Homo sapiens: one gene and its partner. The protein of the gene in region 2 interacts with the protein of the main gene of each other region in a pairwise test. Each region holds a gene or a part of one and is shown on either strand. Other genes may lie near its edges. The genes, in order: AOX1 and ABCA1.

Region 1 (7,298 bases), on a different chromosome or scaffold from region 2:
TTAAACAATGAATTCAGTATATCATAGATAAGAACAGTGATGACAATAACAATACCTGTTAATATTTATTATTAATATTTAAAATACTAACAATATTAACAGTTAATCATTATTAATATTTACTATTTAATGCTATGTGCCACGCTTAGTTATAAGATCTTTATGTCTTTTAACTTATTTAGTAATCACTGCTATTCAAAATTTTCTGTAAGCTCAGGTTTTTCATTAATGTTGGTTTGGATATGTTTAAGTACAAATGGCTCTCTTTCATGGCATCTAACGATATTGATTCAGCATTATGTTTCAACTGGCATTCACCTGCTTTATTTACTAGTTAGTAGAATCAGCAATAAATTCCTAGTGATTTGTTTTTTGTCCACTAGACTTCGGGCTGCTGTCAAAGTAAAGAAAATGGGGTTTGCTGTTTGGATCAAGGAATCAATGGATTGCCAGAATTTGAGGAAGGAAGTAAGGTCAGTGAAATGTAAAGCTTTTATAAGGCTTTCTCAGGACATGAACAGGAGCCAACATACTCTTAGGAAGAACAAATGGCTACCCAAGTTGACTAACTTGAGGTATGTCAACATGTGCCCTCTCCCATTCTCACTCCATCTCTCTATAAAAAAAAATTATATCGCAGCAACTTTGTCCTCATTCCAGATATTATTCCCATTTAAATACAGTTATCTACAGGAGGGAAAACACATTGGTTCCTTAGTGTCTCTTAGCTTTTAAAAGCATTTTTTCAAGTTATTTTTCAAGGGCCAGAAGTAAAGTGGAGATGTCATGAAAATAAAAGAACAGGTAGAACAAGTAGAGACAGGAGAGGTTCAGGGAGCCGTTCTTGTTCCAGCTGTGTCTGCGGCTGCTGCCTCCTCTTCTACTGTCCCCAGACTCCAAAGAGAAGGTACAGGGAGTTGAGGCCTCCAGAGGCCCATTGGCATCAGCACTGAGTTGCTGATGACAAGGTTTGTGTTAGAGCCCTTGGTTTGGAGCGCGGGGATTGTGGCTGGCCAGTGGACTTTTTTGTCGGTTTGCTGTATCTGACTGTGTATCTATATCTTTTGACCTTATTCCACAAAGGATTTTAAAGTTGCTCGATAACAGTAATTTCTGATATGTTCTCTTTTTAGACAAGTCCAAAACTCTTCGCAGAAGAGGAGTTTCTGCCATTGGATCCAACCCAGGAACTGATATTTCCTCCTGAGCTAATGGTGAGTAAAGCAATGTTGAGCTCATCCTAGAAGAATTCATGGTGAAATATCAGGAAGGGTATTTGTTTATGGGTTCTCTCAAAAGCTGATTGGCAAATAGGTGAGGCCTCTCTGTCATCCTTAGCTCAAGGTCTAAAGAGTATGGACTAAGGAAGAGGAGGAGGAATGGGGGTGGGGTCCCCATGGGGGACAGCTGAGTTGACTGTAAGAAGCAGCAGATAGCTTCTATAAAATCGTGAAATCACAGTGTTTGTAGGTATAGACATGTTTCCTACTTTCACTTTTGCTGAAGTTTATTCCTCCATAGAATGATTTAACAAGATTCAGCATGTTACTATATTTGCTAACATTAAAATGATGTTCTTTGAGACAAGAGCACCAAAGGGAGACAGACCAAGCAGTTCCCAGGAGTAAAGAACCATCGTGCTTTTATTCTGAATTCTAATTCCTTGTAAAGCTCTACTTTTAGGTCACTTTGTACTTTATTTTTTAGAAGATATGTATTTTCTCATTCTGTATCTACAGTGCTAATGATTGAGTGGAAACAGGTGGAGATGGCATCATTGGGTACCTTGAATCCCTATTGCTTTTTCAATAGATAATGGCTGAGAAACAGTCGCAAAGGACCAGGGTGTTTGGCAGTGAGAGAATGATGTGGTTTTCCCCCGTGACCCTGAAGGAACTGCTGGAATTTAAATTCAAGTATCCCCAGGCTCCTGTTATCATGGGAAACACCTCTGTGGGTATGTAGAACCCCAGGGATTTTTTATAGGGAAATTGAGAAAAAGGGCTTGGGATGGGGCCGGGGTGGGCTGGGGAAACTTCATATACATGTGTTCTCAGGAAAAGCAGTCTGAAATAGCATTTTTAATCATTTGAGCTAGACTTCCTGAGCATTGCTCAAGAGACTTTCTAACTGTTATTAAGTAGATTCCTCTTGCCTCTTATTGGAGCAGTGTCAAGAGTTGTACCGAAGGGGCTTGCTCCATAGCAAACCAGCAGCAGGAGCTTCAGTGACAGCTGTCCTGTCTTTCCTTTTGGGGACTAATCTGGGCCTCAAATTTCAAATTGCTCTTTGTTTCCTCTCTCAGGGTGTCTCAATAGGTATATGTTTTACTTAAACAACCGCTACAGGGTCTTCCTGTTGCATCCAGTGTGTGCTCAGCTTGAGGAGCAGCCCCTAGAGTCTTCCCAGAGAGAATTTTGAACATGCCATATGGCCCAAGTTTCAAGGTTGACAATTCCAGAGTCTTCCAAGTTTGATGAAAATCTATCCAGCCATTCTCTCTGTATGTGATTTGGCAATAAACAGATGAATAGAAAGATACAATATTTTTAGATATTTAAAGATATTAGTTTAATAATAATTTCAAATTTAAAAGGCAGTTAGTTCCTTTATTCTAGTCTTATTGATTTTTTTTTTTTTTTGATCCTTTAGGGCCTGAAGTGAAATTTAAAGGCGTCTTTCACCCAGTTATAATTTCTCCTGATAGAATTGAAGAACTGAGTGTTGTAAACCATGCATATAATGGTGAGTTCTCAAGTCCCTGTTTTCTTAGTTAAGATGCATTAATCAATTTATTTACCTTGCCCAGCAGACAAGCAGAAAAAGAATGATTCCTAATTATAATACACACAGAGATTCTCTTCTTATAAGAATGATATGTTTGTTGGCCACATAAATGTCTTCTTTTGAGGAGTGTCTGTTCATATCCTTTGCCCATTTTTTGATGGGGTTGCTTTTTCCTTATAAATTTATTTAAGTTCCTTGCAGATTCTGGATATTAGACCTTTGTCAGTGGGTAGATTGCAAAACTTTTCTCGCATTCTGTAGGTTGCCTGTTCACTCTGACACTAATTTCTTTTGCTAGGCATAAACTCTTTAGTTTAATTAGATCCCATTTGTCAATTTTGGCTTTTGCTGCAATTGCTTTTAGTGTTTTAGTCATGAAGTCTTTGCCCATGCCTATGTCCTGAATGGTATTGCCTAGGTTTTCTTTTAGGGTATTTATGGTTTTGGGTTTTACATTTAAGTCTTCAATCCATCTTGAGTTAATTTTTGTATAAGGTGTAAGGAAGGGGTCCAATTTCGTTTTCTGCATATGGCTAGCCAGTTTTCCCAGCACCATTTATTAAATAGGGAATTCTTTCCCCATTGCTTGTTTTTGTCAAGTTTGTCAAAGATCAGATGGTTGTGGATGTGTGGTTTTATTTCTAAGGTCTCTGTTCTGTTCCACTGGTCTATATATCTGTTTTGGTGCCAGTACCATGCTGTTTTGGTTACTGTAGTCTTGTAGTATAGTTTGAAGTCAGATAGTGTGACGCCTCCAGCTTTGTTCTTTTTGCTTAGGATTGTCTTGGCTATACAGGCTCTTTTTGGTTCCTTATGAAATTTAAAGTAGTTTTTCTAATTCTGTGAAGAAAGTCAATGGTAGCTTGATGGGGATAGCATTGAATCTGTAAATTACTTTGGGCAGTATGGCCATTTTCATGGTATTGATTCTTCCTATCCATGAGCATGGAATGTTTCTCCATTTGTTTGTGTCCTCTCTTATTTCCTTAAGCAGTGGTTGGTAGTTCTTCCTGAAGAGGTCCTTAACATCCCTTGTAAATTGTATTCCTAGGTATTTTCTTCTCTTTGTAGCAATTGTGAATGGGAGTTCATTCATGATTTGGCTCTCTGCTTGTCTATTGTTGGTGTATTGGAATGCTTGTGATTTTTGCACATTGATTTTGTATCCTGAGACTTTGCTGAATTTGCATATCAGCTTAAGGAGTTTTTGGGCTGAGACGATGGGGTTTTCTAAGTACACAATCATGTCATCTGCAAACAGAGGCAATTTGACTCCCTGTCTTCCTATTTGAATACCTGTATTTCTTTCTCTTGCCTGATTGCACTGGGCATAACTTCCAATACTACGTTGAATAGTAGTGGTGAGAGAGGGCATCCTTATCTTGTGCCAGTTTTCAAAGGGAATCCTTCCAGCTTTTGCCCATTCAGTATGATATTGGCTATAGGTTTGTCACAAATAGCTCTTATTATTTTGAGATATGATCCATCAATACCTAGTTTATTGAAAGTTTTTAACATGAGGAGATGTTGAATTTTATCAAAGGCCTTTTCTGCATCTATAGAGATAATCATGTGGTTTTCGTCACTGGTTCTGTTTATGTGAGGGATTACATTTATTGATTTGCATATATTGAACCAGCCTTGCATCCCTGGGATGAAGCCAACTTGATCGTGGTGGATAAGCTTTTCGATGTGCTGCTCATCATCACTGATCATTAGGGAAATGCAAATCAAAACCACACTGAGATACCATCTCATGCCAGTCAGAATGGTGATTATTAAAAAGTCAGGAAACAATAAATGCTGGCAAGGCTGTGGAGAAATAGTAATGCTTTTACACTGTTGGTAGGGGTGTAAATTAATTCAACCGTTGTGGAAGACAGTGTGGTGATTCCTCAGGGATCTAGAACCAGAAATACCATTTGACCCAGTAATCCCATTACTGAGTATATACCCAAAGGATTATAAATCATTCCACTATAAAGACACATGCACACTTAGGTATATTGCAGCACTATTTACAATAGCAAAGACTTGGAACCAACCCAAATGCACATCAATGATAGACTGGATAAAGAAACTGTGACAGATACACACCATGGAATACTATGCAGCCATAAAAAAGAATGAGATCATGTCCTTTGCAGGGACATGGATGAAGCTGGAAGCCATCATTCTCAGCAAACTAACACAGGAACAGAAAACCAAACACCACATGCTCTTACTCATAAGTGGGAGTTGAACAATGAGAACACATGGACACAGGAAGGGGAACAACACATACCGGGGCCTGTTGGCGGGTGGGGAGCAAGGGAAGGGAGAGCATTAGGACAAATACCTAATGCATGCAAGGCTTAAAACCTAGATGACAGGTTGATAGGTGCAGCAAACCACCATAGCACATGTATACCTATGTAACAAACCTGCACATTCTGTACATGTATCCTAGAACTTAAAGTAAAATAAAAGAAAAAGAAAATGGGGACAGAAAGCATAAAAAAAAAGAATGATAACATTCTGGAGGAAGACTGAGGGAAGAATTCTCTAAAGTTAATCTAAATACTAATTGTCTGAATAGTTCAGTTTTTACTGAAGAACTTCTTCTGTCTGCAATATCAGAGAAATGTAACAACTATTCAATGAAGGATACGGTGCTAAGTGCTGGACAGAAGATAAAGATGAATATAACACAGTCTTTGCTCTTTAAAACCACAGTAGCGAGTTTATGTATTCAACAGCTTACAGACTGGTTTTTCTACTCCTGTAGAGGAAATTGATATAATGGCAATGATAAGAAGCAATAGAAATGTGGGTTTGCAGTACAGCCTCTGAAATCTAACTCTTGACAATGGCATATATTAGCTGTCAGATCTTAGGCAAGTTACTCAACTCTCAGTTTCTTCATCTGTGAAATGGGGCTATTAATATCTCATAGGTATGTTCAGATTTAAGGAGATTATCTAAAGCATTCAACATAATACTCAATAGAGTGAGTGTTCAAAGAATTCAGCCTTCATTACCTCCATCAACACCACTTACATCACTACCACCACCTCTATCATTACCCCACCTTCATCACCACCACCACACCACCCCCTCAACTGCTATCCCTACCACCATCGCCTCACCACCACTTTCATTACTACCATTACCTTCATCACCATCACCACCATCACTGCCCATCACCACCATCACCAATAAGCAGGGCAGCATGTATCCAGTATAAAGATTCTATGTCTGTAGCTTTGGTCTAATGGACATTTTCAGATCAGCAGTGATCGCACTGTGTTATTTACAAATGACTTCATTTCAGGACTCACCCTTGGTGCTGGTCTCAGCCTAGCCCAGGTGAAGGACATTTTGGCTGATGTAGTCCAGAAGCTTCCAGAGGAGAAGACACAGATGTACCATGCTCTCCTGAAGCATTTGGGAACTCTGGCTGGGTCCCAGATCAGGAACATGGCTGTATGTATCTGATGACAGTAAACTCTGGTATGCATCCCTTGGGTGACTCTCCCTGATGAATCATGACATTTTCATTCTTTTGGAACAGACAAAAAAAATAGTTCTCCAAAGCCTTGCTTAATCCTTATTTTAGCACTTGCTTTTTTATGATTACATAAATGAAAATAACTCATTATTTTTAAAAGTCTTTAGGGGGACACATCATTAGCAGGCATCCAGATTCAGATCTGAATCCCATCCTGGCTGTGGGTAACTGTACCCTCAACTTGCTATCAAAAGGTAAGTGACAGCCCCTACTTGGAGATTATTAAGCTGTTTCTCTACCCCTTTTTCTCTCTGGGGAGGCAGGAAATCCAGTCTTGAAAATGACTTTTCCCTATAATATCAATACATTTCTCTGCTTTTCTGGATACTGGAAATTTTGTGAGTCTTGTCTTAATAGCACAGGCTTTCTTCCCCTGTGTCTTTCTGGTTTTTTGTTTGTTTGTTTGTTTTTCCTCATACTGGTCACCCTACACTGGACATGTTTGTGTTGGTTAATGTCCGGATGTGATCTGATTATTGCTGGGAACTACATACTATTGAGAACTATTGGGTCCCTTTGTTGAAGACATTCTCCAGGTGGTACAGGAGTGTTGTGGCACCCACATCGTGCTTTGAGCTCACACTTAATTTATCATTGATGGAAACATACAGGTCTTTTTCAGGTGAAAAATGATTGGGCCTCATTCTATATTTATTTACTTGATTTTTGTTATTAAAACTAAGTCCACAACATCTAATTTATCGCTTCTTCCAACTTGCTTGAAAATTATTAGGAAGTTCTAATTGGTCCTCTGTAAATTTGTGGGGTTTTTTTTCGTTAAAAAATATGGACTAGTTTTCTATCATCTGCATTGTTAAATACTTACTCTTCATACCATTTAAACCATAAAACTATCTTTTTTTTTTTTTGAAATGGAGTCTCGCTCTGTCACCCAGTCTGGAGTGCAGTGGCACAATCTCAGCTCACTGCAACCTCTACCTCCTGGGTTCAAGCGATTCTC
Region 2 (4,948 bases):
GGAAAAGGACTGCTCACGACACTGTCACAGCCATTCCTGAGGTCACAAATAGAGACAGCCTCTTGTACTTCCTCAAAAGGACTGTTTGACAGGGATTCTTCAAGTAGCAAAATAAGCAGACATCTCTTTCTGAAACTGATTCTTAATGAGCTATGAAAAATACATTTACATTTATCAGCACTGCTCATATGTTGTCTGCACAGCACTTATTACAGGAAAAAAGGAAGGAATCACCGATATTAGTATCATTTCTGTTTCCATATCTACTTCGCCTTCCTGCTCACCATTGCCACCACCCCCAGCACCTTCCCAGTATAACTGCTACATTGTGTCCTTATATTTTTGGTTGAATAAACAAAAGGACACTGAAGGCTGCCTTTGTAGCTTCCCCTATACCAAGTGAACATTTATTAAATAAGCTCAGCTACAGAGCATTTTCAGAAATCTCAGTGCAGCTTCATAATCATTAAGCAGAATATTTATCTAAAAACCTCTAACACTTAATACCAGTTACTCAGTATCTTAACCAACATGAAAATACAAAACAACCTTTTATTTTCAAGTAGTCCCCTCAGTTCTCTTTTATGATTAAGGGAACATTTGAATCTTTTCTAAAGTTTTTCCTTTTGATCCAAATCACTTCCCCTCTACTTTTCTAATGGCTTTATAACCCTTCAACAGTAGGTGGTGCCACAAATGCACAAAAGTAAATTTCTGTAGACCAACAGAACTGTCACAGCTTTATTTTGTGACTCATTATATTACAACATAGAAATATGCATTTTAATACTTCATATAAAGTTATTGACATACAAAATTTTTTTTCTTTTTTCCTTTTAATGAAAATGATTTAACTTAGAAATCTGTTGTGAAACTTTTGTCTAGTTTTGCAATTCTCAGATATTCCAGTGCAAAAATAGATCCCATTACAGACAGCGTAAAGTGCTTGGAATGAGGGCCAATGATGAACAAAGAGCACAAAAACAGCTTCATCTTAGGGTATAAGAAGGGATAATAGCATACCTAAATCCTTATGGAAATAGAAACATTCTAAGGGGGATGCAACAATTTTGAAAAGAATTAGAGCAATATTTCTACAGTATTACATTATTACTAGTAGATAATAACAAGGGTACAAATTAATGTCTCAATATCAAAGTGGTTCAGTATTACATGACACATGGCTCTTTGGAAAATATTTTACCTGATATATACAACCACAAGAAGAAAACACAGACAAATGGCTTTAGTCAATGATTACTATACAGTGAATGAATGATGTGCAACATTTAATAGTCACAAAGCATTTGCTTTCAGTACAGATAATGAAATACAGTAGTGTGAGGTTTGGTTGTTTTTTAACAATGAATTGTGCTGGGCATTTATGTATAGAGGGCTTATTATTTTCTTCTGTATTTCTCATATTCACAGTTGTTAATAAGTTTTCTGAGGTGTCCCAAAGATGCAAAAGCAGAAATTTTTGAACACGTATTTTGAGAATTTCTGAAACTCACATAGGTACATTCCACAGGGAATATACAGAAATTTTGCTTGATTGAGTATAGAGTTGGTAAAAATTTCTACCACAATTAGGTTTACACAGGAAAATGTAAAAAATTACTATTTTAAAAGGTAACACAGTATTAATGAAGATGTATAACTATAGATTGTTTCTAGCTTCAGAAGAGGTCCTTTCAATCTGTATTAAAATGTTGTGTTTTCTTCAAAATAGTTCACAGTGCCTTTTGATTTTTTAAAATATGGCCTTGAAATCAGAGGAACCGAAGTAAGGAGTTGCTCATAGATTTACTATAATGAAGAATTAGAATACGATTTTAGTAAAATGAGGAAACCATAACTTTGATTTTGAAAAATATTAAATGAGGAGAAATTATTCTATAAATTCTGTATTTTTGAAGATACTGTAAAATGCAACGATGCCATATCACTAGTTATTGGAAATATGCCTTCATTACTTATATTTAAAATCAATATTGACTTTAACTTCTAAAACAATCATTTTTTTCTTTTTCAGCAGTGGGTTATATAATATTCTGTAAATTTAAAAAATATAGAAAGATTAATTTGAAATCTGAAGTCTTACACCTTTAGCGTTAATATTCAAATTCTGGAAAAAGTGGAAGAAGTTAGTAATGATATTGAAAGATCACTTGAACTTCCCCAAACAATAGTTCTCTCATATTTTTCTTTTCTCTCAAGACAGTTAACAGTAAGTATTAGTGAAACAGTATTTTTACAAATGTTTACTGACTAGAAAAATAAGACTGGGTTAGAAAACTCTGAAAAATGCTCCATATGGAAGTATTTGTTGTTTTTATATTTTTCTTGACTAGTGATTGAAGAGATGAAAAATTTGAGACTGTCAGATTTAATGGGGTATCCAATATCTGCAAAGCCAATTATTTGAAGGTACTAAATGCCATAAACACAAGTTGTGTTTTTCAGCAAGTTTTCAAGCTAGCTGTTTTCCCTGTTGAAGAATTCATTGTTTAGACTTGTGACCCTTATACTTTCTTGGCTTTTGCATTGTTGCAATTAAAAAAAAAAAAAAAAAGGCTGCCCAGTATTGTTACAGTGGGCTCCTACAACCACAAGACAACCTATATTTGTAAACCAGTGAGCTGAATAACATGGCACAGGAAGTGTACTGAGACTTAATATCTCTCTAGTCTTATACGTACGTACATACTCTTTCAGCTACAGCATACACTCAAAAAATATTTGATTGATGAAGTGAGATTAAGAGTATCCTAAATGATCTGAAAGAAACTCAAATATAATGTCATGAGATCCTGACCATCACATTGCTTTCTAGGCACTAGTCATGACTGATATGCAAACTTACATAAGAAAATAAAAATAGTGGGGCAGTGGCCATACTCCTCTATACCACAGGGTTCTACAAAGAGGCCATTCTAAGGATTCAGAAGTCACTGATAGAACTTAAAATTCCAAATAACATTAAAAAGTACAAACATTTTTGTCAAAATACAACTCCATCTTTTCATTTTCTAGATTAATTCAAAAAGCCAGAAATAATACACTTGTGTCAGATAAACATCTTGAGATGCAGTGTACCATGTTAGCAGACAGTCAGGACAAATGGGCACAGGCTTCCCTAGGTTTGAACGCACAATCTCTTTAATCCCATGCCCTGGCTTCAGCAGCTTGCAGCCCCAGCAGTTTGGCTGTTGATTCTTTGCCTCTTACCAGGATCTAAGTATATTTAAGAGTCTCATAAGGATGACCCTGTAGACCCATGGCTCGAAGCATAGGACAATATAACAATGGAACCAAGTTTCCCGTGCCTGGAGACACCCACATTTTTGTTGCATGTTACTGCCACCAGAACAGCTTATCAGAGGGAATCAAAGCAGGATGTTAGCCACGCATGGCACCATTCTGTCAACTGATATTCAATGTTGATAGACTCTGAGCAGAGCAGCTTTCACAAAAGTGAGCATGACACACCATGGTGCTTCAAACTTTCTGAAAAACTTGGCACTAATAACTCTGGCACACTCATTGCCAGCAATGGATGTGTCACCGGGAAACCAGTCTCCTGGGCATGGCATGGCTTAGTGAATGAGGATGTGCATTACCTTTTGATTTTGATCAATAATCGCTGGCCATGATTACTTGATGAATTATTGTTGCAACCCCAATGAGAATACACAGGAACAAAAAAAAAAAAAAAAGTGTGAGTTCAAACCCATATGTCCATTGGGTTCCATAATAGAGTTTCACATAGGTATAGGTAAAAAACTAAATTCAAGTCTTTCACTTGAGAGCCATACAAGACATAGGCTACAAAGGCACTGCCCCTGTAATGGAATTTTGTTTTCATTGCATTGAATTGCATTGCATTGAATAGTATCAGTACAGTATCCAGTTTACTTCTTCCCACATCAACTTCTGGCTCTTTTCTCCACAACACTTCACATGGTGCAAAGGAAAGTCTAGTTCCTCTTTACTTTCAGCCACCCCGTATGAACAGGATTCTTCATACATAGCTTTCTTTCACTTTCTCATCCTGTAGAAAAGATGTGAGAACTGCAACGTCCACTACTGTCTGGTTTTTGTGTAATGAGAGGTCTTTTAAGTGGTCATCATCACTTTGGTCCTTGGCAAAGTTCACAAATACCTGTTAAAAGATTAAGATGGACCTTTATAAATACCACTCAACTTGCTCATTCTTTATTCTAGTTCTATTTTTCCAGATGTTGAAATTAGGTCAAGTAGGAGCATACAGAATTACATAAATGGATTAACTAGAAAACTGTGTGTGAAGGAGGGAAGAATACTTGAAAAAAGCAATAACAACTTAAAAATAGACTTTTTTTCCCCCCTTGAAATGGGGTCTTGCTCTGTCCCCAGGCTGGAGTGCAGTGGCGAGACCTTGGCTCACTGTAACCTCCACCTCCTGGGTTCGAGCAATTCTCCTGCCTCAGCCTCGCAAGTAGCTGGGACTACAAGTGCGCACCACCATGCCCAGCTAATTTTTGTATTTTTAGTAGAGACGGGGTTTCACCCTGTTGGCCAGGATTATCTGGATCTCCTGACCTCATGATCTGCCTGCTCCTCAGCCTCCCAAAGTGCTGGGATTACAGGCATGAGCCACCACGCCCGGCCAAAAACTGACTTTCTATATCGCCCCCCACCCCTACATCACCAACTGCTCAGTCATCCATTTACTTTGGCACATACGGTCTTGATTAAAGGGAAGAGGGAAGAAAATATTTACTGAGTACTTCTTAAGTGTCAGGACCTATTTGGTACTTTTTTATCTAATTTAAATAGGATTAGGCACCAAGTAAAATGCCTGGCCCATGGTAGGTGCTCACTAAATGGTAGTTTTTATGGTTATTATTACAGTAAATTCTCACAATAATCCTATAGAGTACATAGGCATCATCTCCCTTTTCAG

The links.
Region 1: the proteins of ABCA1 (region 2) and AOX1 interact in a two-hybrid assay, tested with the Homo sapiens proteins (one study listed by BioGRID).

What each region holds. Positions count from the first base shown.
Region 1 is NC_000002.12:200,602,884-200,610,181, forward strand, and holds part of AOX1 (aldehyde oxidase), read left to right. Parts: intron 1-383; coding exon 384-473; intron 474-1,133; coding exon 1,134-1,214; intron 1,215-1,812; coding exon 1,813-1,957; intron 1,958-2,652; coding exon 2,653-2,745; intron 2,746-6,100; coding exon 6,101-6,252; intron 6,253-6,437; coding exon 6,438-6,531; intron 6,532-7,298. UniProt on the Homo sapiens protein: Oxidase with broad substrate specificity, oxidizing aromatic azaheterocycles, such as N1-methylnicotinamide, N-methylphthalazinium and phthalazine, as well as aldehydes, such as benzaldehyde, retinal, pyridoxal, and vanillin.
Region 2 is NC_000009.12:104,780,291-104,785,238, forward strand, and holds the end of ABCA1 (phospholipid-transporting ATPase ABCA1), read right to left. Parts: intron 4,166-4,948; coding exon 4,025-4,165; 3' UTR 716-4,024; downstream 1-715. UniProt on the Homo sapiens protein: Catalyzes the translocation of specific phospholipids from the cytoplasmic to the extracellular/lumenal leaflet of membrane coupled to the hydrolysis of ATP.